Linked DNA regions of Homo sapiens. The protein of the gene in region 1 interacts with the protein of each later gene in a pairwise test. Each region holds a gene or a part of one and is shown in the gene's direction. Other genes may lie near its edges.

Region 1 (10,383 bases):
CAGGGACAGACACACAGGTTACTACCAGAAGAAGAGGCCAGTGTTAGGAAGGGCACAGAGATTCAAAGGTGCTGTATTTGGTGGTGGTGAGTGACCCTGTATAGTGCAGAGAGTGGGGCAGCAGGAGGGATGTTAATTCAGTCATTCACTCTATAACTGTTCATTGAGCCACTATGATGTGTGGGGGACAGTGCTATAATGGGAACAAAATAAACATATCCCTTTCTTCTTGGACACTGTGATCTAGTCCTGGAAGACAAGACCTTAAGTGAACTCCAAATAGATGTGATTACCAACTGTGTGAAGGACTATGGACAAAAGGTGCCTGGTTCCAGGCCAGCCTGTATCTGCAGTGACAGTGGGGTTGGCTTGTGCATGTCTAGGGAAAGCTTCCTTTGGAGTGGAGTGGATGCTGGAGGATGAGCCAGAATTCACTCAGACAAGAGGGGGAGAAGTGCGAGCAGGCAGGGTAACAGCCTGAGCCAAGATCCCATAGTGGTTTCAGGAACCAGTCCAGGAACACGGAAGGGAGAAGAGTGGGAGAGGTCTGAATGGGGAGGGAGGGAGAAGAAGCCAGTGCAGGGCATTGTAGATGCTTGATCTTTGTTCTAGGAGCAATGGCATTGTCATCAGTGGCATTTATTTGCAGCACAACATGATCTCACATACTTTGGAAAGGGAACTTGAAATCATAGTGGCAGTAGCAATTGTAATATTTGTGATGAGAATAACGATAAGTAACATTTATCAGGTACTCGCTATGAGCTTTCTCTCTTCAGCCTCACAACAACCCAAGAGGCATAGGTTCTGGTATCACTCCTGTTTTATAGGTGAAGAAATGGGGCCCCAGAGAGGGCAAGTAACTAGCCTGAGGCTGCACAGGAAGGACTGGAGCTTGGAGGAGCTAGAAGCTGTGTTTGCAGGCAGTTTAGCTCCAGAGCCCAAGCCCTTAGCCTCCACCAGAGTGCCTCGATTCAGGATACTTCTGTTATGCCACATTAAGGGGTTTGGATTTTGGCTCTGGGCAGCCAGCAGATATTTAAATCTGGGGAACAGTCTTCTGGGAAGGTGCCAAGGAGGGATTTATCCTGATTTTAATCTGCAGTTTGCAAAGGTTCTTGTAATTCTCCTTCTTTAACCTTTGCAAGAGCCATAACCGTGGGAAAGCCTGAGAGATGGCAGAGTTGAGATTGCAGGTGGTGGTAATGATGCAGCGCTAAAGCCAAGCAGAGGAAAGGCAATGAGGATAATTACCAGGTCCCACAGGTTACTAGCAATGTGGAAACAGAACATATGGTAGCTGCAGTGGCCAGAAATCCAGTGCAATCTTTCAGTGTATTTTGGAGGAAAAAAAAAGTCTAAAACTAAAGGGCAAATTCTGCGTTAATGAGCACATGTAGCTCCTGAGAAATGCTGGTGCCTGGTCTTATAGGTCAGGCCCTACCAAAGCCTGTCTGGGGGTTAAGTTTGAGGGAGGTCATGATACTCTGGGACACATTTGGTGAGGACACCAGGAAGGGAGCAAAACTAGAAGTTAAGAGGAAGAGTGACATTGGGAGGAGGGCCTTCCTCCTTGAAAGTGGATGGCTAAGGGCAGCACAGTGGCCCCCTTCACATATTTGGAGGCCGGGATCAATTATTTCTGCAGGAAAGGCATCAGCAGTGGTGGTGGGATCTGCAGGGCAATACGTGGGGACTTAGATTAAGTGGCGTTCATGGCTCTGCTTCATGCTTGGAGAAAAGGGCATCCTCCTGAGGCTGTATACTGCATTCTCTGGAGTTAAACAGAGCCACAGCCACCTGTCTGGAACATGTAGAACAGACTCTTGCACTGGCCTGCTTCTGAGCTGACTTCCAGCTCTAAAATACTCTTCCCGATCACATTTGGTTTTACTAGTGAGGAGAGATTTTTTTTTTTAACTATATCATAAAATTTACCAGCTGGGTACAGTGTCTCAGGCCTATAATCCCAGTGCTTTGGTAGGTCAAGGTAGGAGGATTGCTTGAGCCCAGGAGTTCAAGACAACCCTGGGCAACATAGCAAGAGCCTATCTTTACAAAAAACAAAAATTTTAAAAAATCAGCCAGGTGTGGTGGCACATGCCTGTTGTGCTAGCTATTCAGGAGGCTGAGGCAGGAGGAGCCCTTGAGCCCAGGAATTCAAGGTTATAGTGAGCTATGATCAGCCACTGTACTCCAGCCTGGGTGATAGAGTAAGATTGTGTCTCTCTTAAAAAAAATCTATTTCAGGTGTCCAATGATGATTTTTTAGTGATTGACCTAGTGATGCAATCATCACTATAAATCAGTTAGATGTTTTCATTCCCCTGAAAAGATCCTTCATGCCCATTACAGCTAATCCTTGTTGCTGACCTTACCCCCAGGCAATTGCTAATCTACTACTTTCTGTATCTCTACAATTCTTTTGCTGGACATTTAATGTAAATTGATTCATGCATTATGTATATTCTTGTGTCTGGAGTATTTCATTTATCATGCTTTTGAAGTTCTTTCATGGCATAGCCAGTAGTTTGTTCCTTTTTATTGGCAAATAACTTCCCTGGCTGGGCACAGTGGCTCATGCCTGCAATCCTAGCACTTGGGGAGGCTGAGGCAGGAAGATTGCTTGAACCTAAGAGTTCAAGACCAGCCTGGGCAGCACAGTGAGACCTCATCTCTACAAAAAGTAATTTTAAAAAGTTAGCCAGGTGTAGTTGTGCACACCTGTAGTCACAGTTAGGAGGCTGAGATGGGAGGATCGCTTGAGCCCAGGAGTTTGAGGCTGCAGTGACCTATGATCATGCCACTGCCCTCCATCCTGGGTGATGGAGCAAGACAGAACAAAAAACCAAATCACTTTTTATTTTATGGATGTAGCATATTTTGTTTATCTGTTCACCCATTGATGGACATTTATATTGTTTCCAGAATTTGACTTTCTGAATAAAGCTACGAACATTCCCATGCAAGTCTGTATGGACATAAGTTTTCATTTTTGAGGGATAGAAATCTAGGAGTGGAATTGTTAGGTGATATGGTAGTTTTATGTTGAGCTTTTTGAGAAACTGAGGGAGTGGATTCAGAAGGAACACAAAAGAAGCGACCCTAAGTAGTGACTTGGTGGCCTTGTCTTTGTAACCTGCCAGGTAATCCTCACAGCCAGAACATCAGCAGCAAGCTCACCCATGACACTGTGGAGCAGGTGCGCTACAGGTAAGCATCAGGGACACCTGCCTGACTGGGCATACCTAGGCAGACAGACTTCCTTCCTAGGACTTGCCTGCATCCCACAAAAGTTCTGAGTTGGTTTCAGGAGGATCACAGTTGGCTAAAAGGCAATGCATGTATGTTGAGAAACATCAGAGTCAGAGCTCAGAAAGGCAGCGGTGAGTAGATGCAGTGTGGGGCAGATGAGACACACAGGTAGGTGGCTCTGAGGTGCACACAGCTGTTCTGTGTGGCTCCAGAGACTCTGCAGTGCCAAAGTGACAGGAAGTGACCCAGGATCCTAGGTCTTGTTTTCAGAAAGAAGAAAAGTACTATTTCTCTGGTTTTCCTTTTCATAAGAAGTTTTATTAGGCAACTTGTTTTCTTCCTGTCTTTTTTCCCTTTTCCCCCCTTTTTTACTAGTATTTGTATGTTAAACAGCTCTCTATACTTTCTAAACATAACAGTATCTGGCAAATAATTTCCAGGTTGTCCTTAAAATTATTAACACAATTTCCAATCACACAATTTCAAGTTAGTTCAAATGTGAAAGTGATACTGTTTTGCTATTAGAGTTGCCAAAACTAAAAGCAATGTAAACAGGTTGATTACTACTTAAACCTTGTTATGTTAGAGCTGAGCAGAAAGCACCAAGGAGAGAAAGTAGTATCAACTCTGATTAAGTTTATTGTGGATTTTTTGTCATACATATCCAATTGGAGATATCCAGTGATATTTGGGAGGTAAGAGGATTTTGCCAACTGGAACTCGTTCCCACGGCTTCCATTGCCCTCGCCCTAATTTCGCAGCTGTGGCAAACCTATCTATCCATTAAGGTAGAGATGTCATAGTTAATAGAAATAAAACAGCCTGCAAACATTCAGTGCTGGGGCTGAGATCCGCGGGTTGCGGGGATGCTGTGCTTCTTCCAGAATCCTGGCGCACTTCCACACCACCGCAGAAGACTACACTGTGATCTTCACTGCCGGGAGCACGGCTGCTCTCAAACTGGTGGCAGAGGCCTTTCCATGGGTGTCCCAGGGCCCAGAGAGCAGTGGGAGTCGCTTCTGTTACCTCACCGACAGCCACACCTCCGTAGTGGGTATGCGGAACGTGACCATGGCTATAAATGTCATATCCACCCCGGTCAGGCCAGAGGACCTGTGGTCTGCAGAGGAACGTAGTGCTTCAGCCAGCAACCCAGACTGCCAGCTGCCGCATCTCTTCTGCTACCCAGCTCAGAGTAACTTTTCTGGAGTCAGATACCCCCTGTCCTGGATAGAAGAGGTCAAGTCTGGGCGGTTGCACCCTGTGAGCACGCCTGGGAAGTGGTTTGTGCTGCTGGATGCAGCCTCCTACGTGAGCACCTCGCCTTTGGACCTGTCAGCTCACCAGGCCGACTTTGTCCCCATCTCCTTCTATAAGATCTTCGGGTTTCCTACAGGCCTGGGCGCTCTGCTGGTCCATAATCGTGCGGCTCCTCTACTGAGGAAGACCTACTTTGGAGGAGGGACAGCCTCTGCGTACCTAGCAGGAGAAGACTTCTACATCCCGAGGCAGTCGGTAGCTCAGAGGTAACCTTGCCACAGGGGAGGGGTCAGAGGAGTTCAGCAAGGTGGGGTCTGGCCTGTTTCTCCTGGAGGATTATGCAAGAGGTGGGTCTGGCTTTGAGGGTCAGCAGAATTCAGGTTGCTGGCAGGGACAGGCTGATGGCAGGGCTCAGATCTGGGAGGCAGAAGTTGACTGGAGGTGACACAGGTGTTCAGTGAACTCTACCCCCATTTGAGAGGCTTCTCCAGAGCTGTGAGAGGACTGGGGCCTGCAGATAAGAACTGCACACAGGAGAGATAAAAGGCCCTCATGGGGTAAGGAGGGTGAGCTACCAGGCCTCTGCCCTCAGCACTGACAAGAGGTTGCAACAGTTGAAACAGTGGCCTTAAAAGGTGGCACCCAGTGGCTTTAAAAGGTGGCACCATTTGGAAAAAGTCTGCCCACACATTGACAGCATAGCTGGTTCTCCAGGAGCTAGGATCAGCTCAGCCTGGCACCTAGTTAGCAGGAGGAATCAGTTAAAGCAGAGGCCCCCAGACTTGTGAGGCAGTGTTAGCGGCAACCTCTATGAGCCCCACTGTGAGTGAGTTACAGAGGGAGTCTGGGTGCAGGTTGTCACTTGCCCTCAAATGCCAGAGGCCTCTGCCTGGGTTGTTGGCATATGCATCATCCCCAGGCTGCAAGGGCAGGTGGTGTGGGTTATGCTCAGGACTCTTTCAAATGGTAACAGCTGGGACCTGTAAGGTCGAGTGTGTCAAGGCTGAAAATGGTGGCTGATCCAGGGTTCTGCTGGGTCAACAGTGGGGACACAGGGTTGGGTAGGCAACTAATCACCTCCAGGGTCCGGAGAAGGCCTGGGGCATAGACGGGAAGGGCTTTAGATCCCCAACAGACCCCACACAGACGCAAGGGTCCTGCACGTAGGGCCATGGCCTTGACGATAGAGTCAGTGTTAGCTGTGTAAGCCTCAGGCTGGACCACTGGGGAATGAGTCCCCGCTCCACTGCACACCAGCGAGGGGACATGTGACTTGTTCTCTGCACCTCATGTTTTTTCTGTAAAGTAGAAATGATAATATTGGGTCGGGTGTGGTGGCTCACACCTGTAATCCCAGCACTTTGGGAGGCCAAGGTGGGTGGATCATGAGGTCAGGAGTTCGAGACCAGCCTGCCCAACATGGTGAAACTCCGTCTCTACTAAAAACACAAAAATTAGCTGAGTGTGGTGGTGGGTGCTTGTAATCTCAGCTGCTCAAGAGATTGAGGCAGGAGAATTGCTTGAGCCCAGGAGGCAGACGTTGCAATGAGTCAAGATCATACCCACTGCACTCTAGCCCTGGTGACAGAGCAAGACTCCATCTCCAAAAAAAAAAAAAAAAGAAATGATAATATTGTCCTTTTAGAGCTAACATGGGTGAAGTATCAGAATGGTAGGGATCAATGTTAGGAGGCTATTTGATGCCTCTTTTATTTAGGACTTGTCCATAGTTGGGGGGCTTCTAAAACAGGAATGCTCATGTAAAACCTCTTGACTCCAAGTGTGATAATTTACCATGTAACAGAATCAAATGAGAAAAGAATGACAGGCATAACATAATGTAAGTTACAGGCAGAACAAAGCGACACCTCAAATTTAATTTGGCCAATAAGGGCACCTGAAGGCCAGGAGAAGTGGGGCAGCTCACTGGGGGCCAGGGCATGAATGGGCTGGGGGGGATCAGACCTCTTTCCTTTGATTCAGGTAGATGACTTTACAACAGATGACACGCCAACATTCCCAGAAAGCTGAATTTATTTATTTACCATTATAAGCCAATTTTTTTCTTGTGAACTTAGGACTAGAACTCAATAGATTTAATACTCAACCTAAAGGTTTATTGAATAAATACCTTGACTATGTTCTCAACTTTATTTTATAACTCAGCGAAGTACATCCCTTGACAGAAACAAAAAACTTTTATTTTAAGAAATCTATTAAGTATTTGATCAATAAATAATTGTCAATCAATAACTGGCTAGTTTAACAAATTTTTTTGTAGAGATGGGGTCTTGCTATCTAGAGATGGGGTCTTGCTTTTTGTAGAGATGGGGTGTTGCACAGGCAGGTAGTTTCAAACTCTTGGCCTCAAGTGATCCTCCCACCTGGGCCTCCCAAAGTGTTGAGATAACAGGCATGAGCCACTGCACCTGGCCACCCTAGGAAATTTAGAGCAGCCCAAGAAAACTGCAGAGTGGGTCAGGGCCAGAGGCAGCTGGACAGGTCTTGGTGTACAAAGTGCCCCCATCCTGAAGGGGAGAGCAATGTTTTATAAGACAGCAGAGGGAAGGTATTAATAGATTACAGCGGTATTAGTCCAATTTCACACTGTTATAAAGATACTACCCAAGACTGGGTAATTTATAAACAAAGGAGGTTTAATTGGCTCACAGTTCTGCATTGCTGGAGAGGCCTCAGGAAACTTACAATCATGGCGGAAAGGGAAGCAGGCACTTTCTTCACAAGGCAGCAGGAGAGACAGAGAAGAGCCCAGGGGAACTGCCATTTATAAAACCATCAGATCTCGTGAGAACTCCCTCACTATCACGAAATGAGAACAGCAAGGGGGAAACCATCCCCATAATCCAATCACCTCCTACCAGGTCCATCCCTCAACACCTGGGGATTACAATTAGAGATGAGATTTAGGTGGAGACATAAAGCCAAACCACATCAACAGCTAAGCCTAAAATCTAAAGCTCATTATATACCACGAAATGCACATGGATTGTTTTGACCACAGCTTGACCTGTTCTCCTTACCCCGTGGTTATAGGTTTGAAGATGGCACCATCTCATTCCTTGATGTTATCGCGCTAAAACATGGATTTGACACCCTAGAGCGCCTCACAGGTCAGTGGACATTTCTATCCCTGTGGAATTTGCTCCTGTTGTGTCCTTGAGGGAGCTCTGGCACAGGTGTGATTCAGGTAAAGGAGACAGAGTCTGTGGAAGTGACTGGCACTCCATGTAGTTAAATTTGATTCCTAGTAACTTCAAAACCACTTCAGAGAGCAAGAGAATGAGGTGGGGTTTTTGGATTGTTTTTTGTTTTTTCAGCTAAAATAACATTTTAACAGGTAGAAGACATTCCAAATCAGGAGATTGCTAGCTTCACAGAATGAGAGGAGCATCCCTGGGTCCTGGGAATGGTTACAGATCCTGAGGCCTTTACCTGCTCTTGCCTTTCTGGGTCCTCCCCACTGCCCCACGGGGGAGCTCTGCCTATGAATGAGCTGATGCTCAGAGAGGTTAAACGCCTTCCAGGCCAGGGAGCTGGAAACCAGGAGGGCAAGGATTTAACCCAAGTCATACTGATGCCTAACCATGAGCACCCAACCACTGTGTCTGCCGATGGTCTTCGCATGAGGCATGATTTCTTTCCTGGCCATTGCTCTTTTGTCACAGTAATGGGACCCTTCAGTGCCTTAACCTTAGCCTTAGCCCAACATAGGGGCAGACAGGATTCACGGGAAGAGAGGGTCGCCCTGATGGCAATGCAGGGAGGTGAGTGGGCATGATCTGGGACAAACGGAGTAGTTAATAAATACAGGCAGTGAGTAGTGAGTACTTTCCAAGGAAAGATATTAACAGGGCCCCCAAACTGCAGGTGACAGTGTCTAACAGGTCCAGGTAGCTCGGAATGCAAAGGTTGACTGTACCAGTCCACAATATGGCAAACCCTGATTTTTTTCCTATGTCATTGTTCCTTTTTTAAAAAATAAAAATTGTGGTAAACTATACATAACATAAAACTTACCATTTTAACTATTTTTAAGTGTACAACTCAGTCGTAGTAAATACATTCACAATGTCGTGCCACCATCACCACTATCTATTTCCAGAACTTTACCATACCAAACAGAAACTCTGTACCCATTAAACAATAACTCTCTATTTCCTCCTCCCCTTCCAACCCTTGGAACTACTTTTTTTTCTCTGTGGATTTGCCTATTCTTGGTAACTCATCTAAGTAGAATCATACGACATTTGTCCTTTTGTGTCTGGCTTCACTTAGCACGTTTCCAAGATTCATTCATGTTGAAGCATGTATTCTTCATTGCTTTGTGTAGTGTTAAAATGATTTAAACATTAATAATAAAAACAAACAGCAAAAATATGTTTAGAGGAAAAAACATACATTTTGTGATCTGTTACCAAAGGGTCTAAATATCTAAATGTTTAAGTAACATTATGTATAAAAAAGAGGATGACAGGAATGCCTATGGAAAAATTCTGTTGTTCAGTACTGAAGACCTAAACATTTGTCACAAGGGCAGTACCATCCACTATTTACACACATTTAAAATTATTAATGTGAGGTCCAGGTTTGCCAGTTATAACAAACTTGTTTTCTTAAAAGTGAGTTAGTGGTGCCAGGCGTGGTGGCTCATGCCTGTAATCCCAGCACTTTGGGAGGCTGAGGCAGGTGGATTACTTGAGCCCAGGAGCTCAAGACAAGCCTGGGCAACATGGTGAAACTCCATCTCTGCAAAAAATACAAAAATTAGTCAGGCATGGTGGTGAATGCCTGTCGTCCCAGCTACTTGGGAGGCTGAGGTGAGAGGATCACCTGAGCCCAGGAGGTTGAGGCTGCAGTGAGCTGTGATCATACCACTGCACTCCAGCCTGGGTGACAGAGTGAGTGAGACCGTGTCTCAAAAAAAAAAAAAAAAAAAAGAGTGAATTGAGAATTTACATAAAGCTCATGATTCTCTTGTGTTTCATGATTGATTTGAGGTGGAATGGAGAATATAAAGCAGCACACCTTCACCTTGGCTCAGTATACCTACGTGGCCCTGTCCTCTCTCCAGTACCCCAATGGAGCCCCTGTGGTGCGGATTTACAGCGATTCTGAGTTCAGCAGCCCTGAGGTTCAGGGCCCAATCATCAATTTTAATGTGCTGGATGACAAAGGGAACATCATTGGTTACTCCCAGGTGGGTTTTCTTTCCATCCTGCTGACTTTATTACAACTCATCCTAGTTCCAGACGAGAGCAATGTAGTGTGACAAAGTCCATGCACTGTTGAAGAGGCCACCAGGCCCTCAGCCACATGCCTTTCCACCTTCATTCACCCTCGTTTTTCAGTCCTCTTTACTCAGCCAAAAGTGGTAACTTTCAAATGGGAAGAAAGAGGCCAGTTCTTCTGATGGCAGGTGGGAAACTGTTGGGTCTTTGCCATAGTAGAATAAGCTGTTCACTTCACTTCCTGGTCCACTAAAATGTCCAGAGTTGCACTGAGCACTCAGGCATGGTGGTAGGTGGTTATCAGACGGGGTGTCACAGATGGACAACAGGAACCAAATGTTACTCCCAGAGCAGCACTGTGGGGAATGGATTCAATCGTTGGGTGTTTGGAAGACGGTGCTGGTTTTTCCTTGAAAGCACATCTGCATCCCCATTTTTATTTATTTTTTTGAGGTGGGGTCTCGCTCTTTCACCCAGGCTGGCATGCAATGGCATGATCTTGGCTCACTGCAACCTCCACCTCTTGGGTTCAAGCAATTCTCATGCCTCAGCCTTCCGAGTAGCTGGGATTACAGGCACACACCACCACACCTGGCTAATTTTTGTATTTTTAGTAGAT
Region 2 (10,383 bases), on another chromosome or scaffold:
TGGGTGATAGGTGTGCAGATGGATAAACAACAATCAAAAAGAACCAAAAGTGTCCTCAGAAAAAAACGTTTTGAGCATTTACTATGTCCTAGGAAGTATGCTAAAATATTTCTAGGTATTAAATCATCTAATGCTCATAACATCCCACTGAAATATTTACTGTAATTATCCTCATTTTAGAGATGAGAGACCTGTAGCCCAGAAAGATTCATTAGCTTGCCCGAGGTGTCTGGATGGGTCCTGGGCATTTTCAGGGCAGTTCTGCTCTAATTGTCTCGTGGAAATAAAGGAAGACATGCATGAACACAAGGACTGTCCCCTGTCCCCACTCTGTCCTTCTAGAGACTGTCTTCTCTTTCTTCCCTCATCACAGCTCTTATCTCTTCCATTTATCACGACTGGGTTTGTTTGTTTATGAAGTCCATGAATGTTAGGGATCACCATCCCCTTCCTGGTAGTCTCAGATTTACCCACTGGTGCCAGAGTTGGAAAAGGCAGGCCTCAGGGCCTCGCACCCTCCCAGCCCCAGGTTCACCTTGGAGACCCTTCTCCTTTCCTGAGTCAGATCCCTTCCACTGTGTCACCTCTCAGTTCTGAGAACACGGAGGCTGCAGCAAGGAGAATCCCTGCAGGGAGCATGGCTTTGCTATTTTCTATGATCCTGATATTTACTGTGGGTAATATTTTGAAATATTTCAATCATGCTAAAAATTATTCACTTCAGGAGAACATGTCAGAGTTTACAGAGCACGCACATGCTTGTTCTCACACTTCATCCTCATGACAAACCTGAGGGAGGGTTATTTTTAAAATGACATTTTATAGAAGAGGAAACTAAGGCACAAAGAGTTGAAGTGGCCTAGATCACTTAAGAGGAAGAGCTCATATCCCATCCTGGAGCTCCCTGGCTCCCAGCCCTCTTCTCTGTGCCCTCTGCCAGCTTGTTTGTCATGGGTCTCCTGTTTTTGAAAATTGGGGGGTGAAATTATTTAATATTTGGATAACATTCTCCCTCTACAGAGGTTCAGAAACACCTGAACAATAGCTACGTTAGGATATAATGGAATACAATGAAGGGAAATGACTAATCCCGGGTCACACTACCTAAAAGAGCCCTGAGCCTGCCCCAATCCAATAATGTACACATGCACGGACACAGACACAGGCTCCCAGGGTGAGAATCACCCCAAATCTTAGCCCCAAATCACATTCCAGAGTTCCCGGCACAGTCTATACCCCAGAGGCTTCCCATCGGTAGTTGACCTTGTGACCTTGAGAGGCGCGTGGCTCTGGGACCCAAGGTGGGCTTCCCTGCCAGGGATCAGCTCTTGTGCTCCACATTGTGTTTCCCTCTTTTTCAGAACGTGATGCCTTTGACACCTTGTTCGACCATGCCCCAGACAAGCTGAATGTGGTGAAAAAGGTGGGAAAGGGGTGCCTGGGATGGACAGAGGGAAGCGAGATGCAACAGAACATTGGGAAAACCCATCCCTGCAGCTTGCGAGCTTCCTGCCAGAACTGGTGGCATCACCTAACCTCTGCACACACAGGGCTTTCCCCCTTGCCATCCATGTACCTGTCTGTTCCTCACTGGATGTTGCACCTGGGCCTTTTCCCCTCCATCAGCATGAACAGCCTGTCTTCCCACCCAGGCTAACCCCAGCAATCTCAGCCTTCCCCACTCCTCACAGAATTCCCTGTCTCCCTGGCCTAGGCACCTGTGCCGAAGAAGGGACAGGAAGGAGAGATCCAGTGGAATCATTTTATTTCAGTTCCCCCACCCAGACACTGGCTCAGACACTCCACCTATCATTCTGCCTCTTGGGACCTCCTTGTTCCTTACACGCCCTGAGTTGTATGGGACTGCAAAGTCGAGCCTGTGGCCCTCCCTGTGCACTCAATGGCCTTTGCAGAGAGAGCTCCTGGGCCCAGGGCTCTTGGCTGGGCCTGATCCTCTGCTTTCACCCTCACCCTTGCCCTCACGGGAGTCACGGAGCAGCCACAGGCTCCTGCACTAGTGCGAGTCCCCAGCTTAGGGCCTGCTTTGCTTCTCTTTTAGACACTCATCACTTTCGTGAACAAGCACCTGAATAAACTGAACCTGGAGGTCACAGAACTGGAAACCCAGGTGGGTGACAGACCCCAGCACAGGTAGAGGCAGGGCCCTGCCCTACAGCCCCTGTTCCAAGTGGCCCACCACACTTGGCCAGGAGGGCTTTCCCAGCTGAGGGGGATGAGGGCATGGGAATCTGTCCTACTCTGAGGGGTGGACTGAGTCTCTGTGGATTTTTTCCAACTTTTTATTATGAAAATTACAAGAATGAATACTCATATACCCTTCACTGGGATGCACCGATTGTTAATATTTGGCCACACCTCTCTCTCTTTCTCTGCACCCCTAAATGCTTGAGCATATGTCTCTCAAGAACAAGCACATTCTCTTAGGTAACCACAACACAATTATCAAAGGCAGGCAGTTTTAACATAATACATTAATCTGTTTAGATTGAATCATATGAAATTGCTGACATTCGACTGTTTTTGTTTTCTGTTTTGTTTTGTTTTTTGAGATAGAGTTTCACTCTTGTTGCCCAGGCTGGAGTGCAGTGGCAAGATCTCGGCTCACTGCAACCTCTGCCTCCCAGGTTCAAGCGATTCTCCTGCCTCAGCCTGCCAGGTAGCTGGGATTACAGGCATGCGCCACCAAGCCCGGCTAATTTTTTGTATTTAGTAGAGACGGGGTTTCACCATGTTGGTCAGGCTGGTCTCAAACTCAGACCTCAGGTGATCCACCCACCTTGGCCTCCCAAAGTGCTGGGACTATAGGCATGAGCCACCGCACCCAGCTGACTGTTCTTAACCTACTAAAATGGCAACATCATGTGGTTAGAAAAAACACTCTGTTCAGATTTTGCCAGTTGTCCAGTTTGCTCACATGCTGCATTTACTTGTCATGTCTCTTTAGTCTCTTTTTAACGTAGAACAACTCCTCGGCCTTTCTTGTTGTGGCACTGACACTTTTTGAAGTGTTCAGGCCAGTTGGTTTATAGACTGTCTTTTCTGCACATATTAGATTCAGGTCATGCATTTTCATTAACAGCACGTCCCAAGTAAGGCTGTGTTCTTCCCGGGGCATCCCAGGAGGAGGCACTCTGTCCATTAGTCCCACTGCTAGTGATAACTTGGATTATTTGGTTAGGATGGTGTTCACCGGATTTCCCTATTATAAAGTTATTTTTCCTCTCTTTATACTTAACTAATCTTTATTGGGGAGATATTTTGAGCCTGATGAATCCTGTTTCCCCACCTCCTTTCATTCTTGGTGAGCTTCTGCCTTATACTTCTCTTTCAGTCATCTGGGTACCTCCTTTTATTTTAAAGACAAATGCCAGCCTGTCGCTGAGCTCCACCTGAGTGTGTCTAGACTGTGTGAAATGAGCTTCATGTACTCTTGTAGGAAATAAGGAATGTTCTGGAAAAGTGACGCTTCCTTGAGTGAGCTAGAATGGGCCCTGGAATGATCAGCTCCGTTTTCAAGGGCAGGGAGTGCTATGACAGGGGTCACTGCCAAGCACTTTGGGTCTCTACAGTTTTATCTACTATTCCTACCAAGTCAGTGGAACCAGCCATGGGAGGTGAGGAGCAGTCTAAGCCTGGCACTCAGAGCTGTGAATGACCCCAACCCTAACCCAAGGTCACCCCTGAGCTCACAGATTGGATTCTTTTACTCCTAACTCCTTCTCACCACAGCTTGAATGAAGCCCAGTTGCTCAGCTCCCACCAGAAGGGCCTTGATTTTGACAGACTCTGGGGTCTGCTCTCCCGTGTCCACCTAGGGTGAGTCATGCTCAGGCCGTTCCCACCTGAGTTGCAGGCCTGATGGATAGAAGCTGGGAGGAGCTACCCTTTTGTTTTTGAGACAGGGTCTTACTCCTGTCATGCAGGCTAGAGTGCAGTGGCACGATCACGGCTTACTGCATCCTCAACTTCCCAGGCTCAGGTGATCCTCCCACCCCAGTCTCCTGAGCAGCTGGGACTACAGGCATGCACCAACATACCCGGTTAATTTTTTTGTATTTTTAGTACAGACAGGGTTTCACCATGTTGCCCAGGCCAGTCTGGAACTCCTGAGCTCAAGCGATCCGCCTGCCTCAGCCTCCCAAAGTGCTGCGATTACAGGCATGAGCCACCGCACTCGGCCAGAAGCTGCCTTTAAGGCAAGCGCAAGCTCAGGGTCTTGTGCCCTTAATGACGGCTGAGCCGCAGGCCGGCTAGCTGGCTACCTGGAAAGCTCTCTGAGCAGACTCTGGGCTCCTAAGGTGATTCCAAGAAATGTGGCCTTCTCTAAACCCCAGCAGCTATATACACTCATAAACATTTGGTGGCCCAGCCTCCTTTGAAAGGGTTCTAGAATGTCGGATGTGCATCTGACCTCTATGTCTTTGCTAGGCCATCCCCCCTACCTGGAACCCCCTACTCCTCCCAAGGTCCATCATCCCCGGCCTCCACAAGCCTGTCCTGAGCCCTCAGTGTATGCTCACTTCACCCAGCCCTAAGCAGAAGACCAGCAGCCTCCGCACTTAGCTGAGGGACTCTCCTGTCCCTTGGGCCTGGTTTCCCAACCCATCTGGCCTCTTCTGCCTAGGAAGGGACCGGGCTGCAAGCCTCCTGCCAGGGCCCTCAGCACATAGTTCTGCTTTTGCCAGCAAGAGCAAGTAAGTCATGTCCTGATTGCTTTGTTGTTTTCCCAGACAGTAATAGCAACATTTAATATTTATTCAATGCTACATGCCTAGCAGTTTACAGGCCCTCTCTGCATATTTAACTGGCTTAGTCCTCACGATAACTCTGTGACATAGATACTATTCTATTACCATCCCTGTTTTACAGATAAGACATATGAGTACAGAGAAGTGACATAACTTGCCCAAGGCATATAGCTAGTAGGTGAGAGAGCTGGAATTTGCACCTGGGAGGCCTGGCCCCAGAGCCCACATTCATAACAGCTGCACTCTGCTGCTGTAATACTGAAGAGAGATGGGAGAAAGAATGCCCAGCCCTGTGTGACACTAGTCCTTTCTCTGTTCAGAAAGCACAGATCTCCCCAGGAACCTCATGCCATTCACCTTGGACATCACCTCCCCCTCCTCCCTCTGTCCCACTCTAGCCAATCCTGCTCATCCTCAGCTCTCCACTCAGGCTCTGTCCCCTCCAGAAGACTCCTCTGATGCCTTCAGTGCTTGTGGGCGACCTTTCTCAACCTCACTCAGGCCAGCGAGCTTCCTTCCATCAGAGCAGCTGTGCCTTGCCCCCACACCAGTTTCCCTATTAGACTGTGTACTCCTCCAGGGCAGGAGCCACACTGACCACCCCCCACCCCCCACCCCCCACCATGCTCTGGTCCCCATGCCTAGACCAGGAGTTGGTACACAGCCTCTGTTCAGTAAATGCTGGGTCAGCTGAGATCAGGGCCTGGGCTTGTGGCTCCTGTGCCAGCCAGACGTGGGGCAGAGCAGACCTCCTTGTCTCGGGCCACTGCCCCTACCCCCGAGCTAGCAGCCTGGCTGGGGTGGTAGGCTTCAGGTGGCATAGCACAGAAGTTGATGGGCCCCCTGGATGGGGATTGGCTGGGAGGCTCAGGGGCCAGTGCCATCACCTGGCTCTTCCTCCAGTTTGCAGATGGGGTGTACCTGGTGCTGCTCATGGGGCTCCTGGAGGGCTACTTTGTGCCCCTGCACAGCTTCTTCCTGACCCCGGACAGCTTTGAACAGAAGGTAAGGAGAAGGGACATCAAGGGAGGCCCCCTAGCCCACATCCCCTGACTCATGTGCCCACACCCATGCTGGGGCTATCCAGAAAAAAGGCAGAAGCTTCCCCTCTGCTCAACGTCTTCAGTGCCTGGAGGTGGGACCCATTATAAGAGCTGAGCTGGGAAGGAGCTACCTGCAGACCACTGGGCATCCCTGACTGCCTTTCCCTTGCCCTGAAGCCTGGCCCGGGTCCCCTGCCCTGTGTCCCTGTCAAGTGCCCCAGCCCAGCCTCCTCTCTCCCCAGAGATGACAAGGAAAGTGACTGTGAAGCTGGTCAGCCCTGAGGCTCATGCTTAGCCTGGTTCTGATGGCCTCTCGTAGGCTGCCACATCCTGCTCGCTACACAAAGGCATTTGACCAGAAAGCCTGCTCTGCCTGTTGAACATGTCCTGCCATCTGATTCTTCCAGACGTGTGCACTGACACCCCCAATTTGAAGTCCTGGCAGTTTACACAGGAACACAGTAGGATATGAAGGGAGTTTTGTGCTTCTCCAGGAGTGCTTCTCCCAACAGCAAGCTAGGATCAGCTAGCTCACGCTCCAGGTGGCCTGCCCATTTTGGTAGCCATATTTCTCCTTGAAATTAGTTCAGCCTCTGTCCCTCTGGCTACAGTGCTGGGCTCCTTCACTTCCCAGGGCCAGGTCCTGGGGCTCCTGGGTGTGCAATGGTACATGCTGTCTGCATCTCTCTTGCCAGGTCTTGAATGTCTCCTTTGCCTTTGAGCTCATGCAAGATGGAGGGTTGGAAAAGCCAAAACCGCGGCCAGAAGGTACTTTGCTCTTTCCTGGGTTTGTGACAACAGAGTGAGACCCTCTCCCTGCACATGAGTACTCAGATTTTGTAGCAGAGGGAAGCATTTTCTGAAGCCTTCGTTGCTGGGGAAGGTGGGACTCGGTGCAGCTGCTCAGTCCCAGAGACCCTTTGTGAGCTGCCAGCTGCACAGCCAGGGGAAGAAAAGAATCTGAAATCCCACACATGCCATGCGTGGGATCGCGGGGATCAGGGACCGAGCAGAACTGCTGCTGCAGGAACTGCCCTGTGCCCAATTTCCAGGTTTTCCTGTCCCTGCACAGGGTGCTGACCTGCCAAAGAGCTGTGTCCCCGCCAGTCGGGGTGAAGGTGCAGCGCAGACAGTTCTGGGCTGAGCAAAACTGCTTCTCTCCTTACAGATGCGGAGCTCTGCCTGCTCAGACTCTGTCTGAGGACAGGCCATGATTTGTGGGGTTTGGGTTGTAAATATAAGTCTGAGGGGAAATGCAGAAGGGACAAGTGCTTCTGCAGCCCCTGCATACTCCTGCTAGGAGTGCACACGTGCATTCGTGAGCAGAGGAGGCACGCTTCTCTTAGTAGTCTTGGTACGGATGATTGCTTTCTGCCCCTTACTGACTGAAGTATTCCATTTCACCAGAGCTGGCAGGTCACCACTGTGTTGCAGATAATCTCCTGCATATGTCCCCTGGGAACACTGAGAATGCCATCTGTGGCCCTTTTGCTCGCACTTTTCTGGTAGTTTATAGGCAAGTGGATGAGTAGGAATGGTGGGCTCTCATGCCCCCTTCCTGCCTCTGCTCTGAGCTCCTCTATCCAAACCCCCACCTAGTGGGGGCCATGCCCTGGTCTAGTGGGCTTGAGACCCTGTAGACCATGATATAACAAGAGGGGTAAGACCTTCCTGAACCTCAAGGCACGTGTAGCCAACCAGGGAAGAGAAAAGTTGGAGCCAGTTAGCAAAATGAAATGACAGTCATGGGAACTGTTACGAAAGAGGTACAAGGAAGAGTCTGTGAGGACTGAGGAGGTGATACCACTTCTGTCTTGGGGGAGGAACAGTTTGATGGAGACAGTGGGGCTCAACCATAAGGACCAGGTAGGGCTTTGGTGTATGGAGACTGGGAGAGAAGTGTGTGCATGCCAGACAGAATGACAGCATGAGCAAAAGTCCCCCCGGGGAAGAATGGGGACCCTGTCTCATGACTCCTTCCAGACTCGTTATCTATTGACTCTAGCCAACAAAGGTCAACTCCTGTTCTCATTTATTACCACCTTGTCCTAAGCCCCTGGTCAACTGAGACCTGGGGGAGGACCTCTAGCAAGGCTGGTGTCCCCCTGGGGCTCTCTCTTTGGCAAGGCCACTCCAGCCTTCCTAATGCCATTAGGAATGGACTCTTCTTGTTCTGTGGGCAGATGATGAGCACCCTGCTTCTGGGAGGACAGACACAGTGAGAAAGTTCCGACCATCATTTTGCTTCCACTTTCTTCAACCACTTAATATGAAACTTCCTGGTTACAGATTGGAAGTACTTCTGCTATTTTAGAATTGGGATATTTCTTTCCCTTGGGACAGATAATTTTCCCAATATAAATCAATCTATGGGAATATTTTGGAATATAGGTGATATTTTTATGCAATTATTAAGTTGCTGAATGTGAAACTAACAGACTGATGTGGATGGAAAAACACGTGTTTTATTTGTTATGACACAGGGCATTATGCCCATGCTGCAAATTTCCAGTACGTAAAGGGGAATGGAAATAGCATTTTATGAAATTGTACTTTGAAAGAAGTGAATCCCAGCATTCCGTCTGGTTTTTATGCTTCTACCTGGAAAGTGAGATTTGGAAGTAAATGATGCAGACATTTCAAAGGGTGCCAATGTGGGTAATTCTTTGAGGGCATTTCAAAATCAAACTGGTTGTGGTGGAGGCATTTTTCATGGCAACATGTTTTTAAGGTCAGGAAAATGCATTCTCTGCTGTGCTGTTTAACACTCAAAGCTCTGTTGTGCCTTGAAATCCCCTAGAAACTGGGTTTGTATCTGAGATGACTTGCTGCCCAGGCTTCATGACCGTTTAGTGCCTGAGTTAGTGTAAGCCAAGGGTTAGCATCAAGTTCCTAACCAGTGGAGCAGTCGAAATAATGGCCAGGCATGGAAGCTCACACCTGTAATCCCAACACTTTGGGAGGCCAAGGTGGGCAGACGGCTTGAGCTCAGGAGTTTGAGACCAGCCTGGGCAACATAGTGAGACCCCACCTGTACAAAAAATACAAAAAAATTAGCCAGGTGTAGTGGTGCATGCCTGTGGTCCCAGCTCCTCGGGAGGCTGAGGTGGAAGGGATCGCTTGAGCCTGGGAGGCGGAAGTTGCACCACTGCACTCCAGCCTGGGCAACAAAGTGAGACCCTGTCTCAAAGAAAGGAAAAAAGGAAAGAAAAAGAAATATTGTCATGCAGCTGGCAGCTTTTTATTTAGGGCATCGTGCCACATGTCTTCAAATGCACATGTCCACCCTGTTATCACCTTTCAAGTAGACTCATCATCAATTATGGTTAAGACTCCAGAATAACAGGCAGGCAGGGACTCAGAAGACATCTAGTACCAGGCAGGATTGAAGTCTGTAGGACTAAATATCTAAAATTTAAGGAGTCTCATACCTGGGACCAGATGGCAAGCAATGCTGAAAAACCAAGCAGGTTATGGCAGCTTAGTTCCAGGTGATCACTTCATTTGGGGAAGACTTGGTCAGTGGCTGATAACATGGAAAATGTTCAACTCCCCCATTCCCCTAGGAGATAGTGTACAGAAGCCAATGGTGACAAACATTTAAAACTCTAATCATACCAAGTGTTAGCAAGGATGTAGAGCAACAGAAACTGCTGGTGTTCTAAATTGCTAGAACCATTTTATTTTTATTCAGTCCCTATTTAGCCGAAAGTAGAAAACAGTTTGTTCTCATCTAACATAGTTGAAGATTTGTAATACGCTATAAAATAATGTGGTAGACACCCCCTGCCAAAATAATGTGGTCTCCACCCCTGGCCAAAAACGTCCAGGTCCTAATCCTCGGTACCTGTTCATGTGTTATCTTACATGGCAAAAGGGACTTTGCAGATGTGATTAAATTTAGGGTCTTGAGATGATGACATTATCTAGGTGGTCCCAATGTCATCACAGGGGTCCTTATTATAAGTCGAAGTGGGAGGCAGGAGTGTGAGGGTGATGTAGCATAAGAAAGGCTCACCCAACCATTGCTGGCTTTGGGGATGGAAGAGGTCTATGAGCCAGAGAATGCAGGCAACCCCAGAGGGTTAGAACATGAGTAACTAACTGCCTTATGGCCACCTAACTTATTCCATCCCCCACTTGGAAAGAACAAGTGTAACGATCTCCATTTCGAGCCTCCAGAAAAAAATGCAGCTGTGCTGACACCGTGATTTTATCTCAGTGAGATGGATTTGGGGCTTTTGATTTCTAGAATTCAGAGATAATACATTTATGTTGTTTTTAGGCCACCAAATGTGTGCTAATTTACTACAGCAGTAATAGGAAGTTAGCACACTCCTTGACTTAGCAATTCCATTCATAGGTACGTATGTCCATACACCAGGAGACAAGCCCAAGAATACCCATGATAGCATAGGCTGGAGTGTACATCCCAGTAGACTAGCTACATAAATTGAAGCATATTCATATCATGGATTATAATACAACCATGACAATAAAAAAGACTGAACTGAGAAGTCAGGGCAGGAACTTCTAGTTACTGTAGCCTGAAGAGATCAGTGACTATTCTC

What was found.
Region 2: the proteins of MOCOS (region 1) and PARVA interact in binary tests that used the Homo sapiens proteins (3 or more experiments, as listed by UniProt).

Annotation. Positions count from the first base shown.
Region 1 is NC_000018.10:36,195,544-36,205,926, forward strand, and holds part of MOCOS (molybdenum cofactor sulfurase), read left to right. Parts: intron 1-3,146; coding exon 3,147-3,213; intron 3,214-4,139; coding exon 4,140-4,781; intron 4,782-7,569; coding exon 7,570-7,646; intron 7,647-9,533; coding exon 9,534-9,733; intron 9,734-10,383. UniProt on the Homo sapiens protein: Sulfurates the molybdenum cofactor. Sulfation of molybdenum is essential for xanthine dehydrogenase (XDH) and aldehyde oxidase (ADO) enzymes in which molybdenum cofactor is liganded by 1 oxygen and 1 sulfur atom in active form.
Region 2 is NC_000011.10:12,511,938-12,522,320, forward strand, and holds part of PARVA (alpha-parvin), read left to right. Parts: intron 1-1,361; coding exon 1,362-1,423; intron 1,424-2,059; coding exon 2,060-2,128; intron 2,129-5,672; coding exon 5,673-5,774; intron 5,775-6,507; coding exon 6,508-6,580; intron 6,581-10,383. UniProt on the Homo sapiens protein: Plays a role in sarcomere organization and in smooth muscle cell contraction. Required for normal development of the embryonic cardiovascular system, and for normal septation of the heart outflow tract.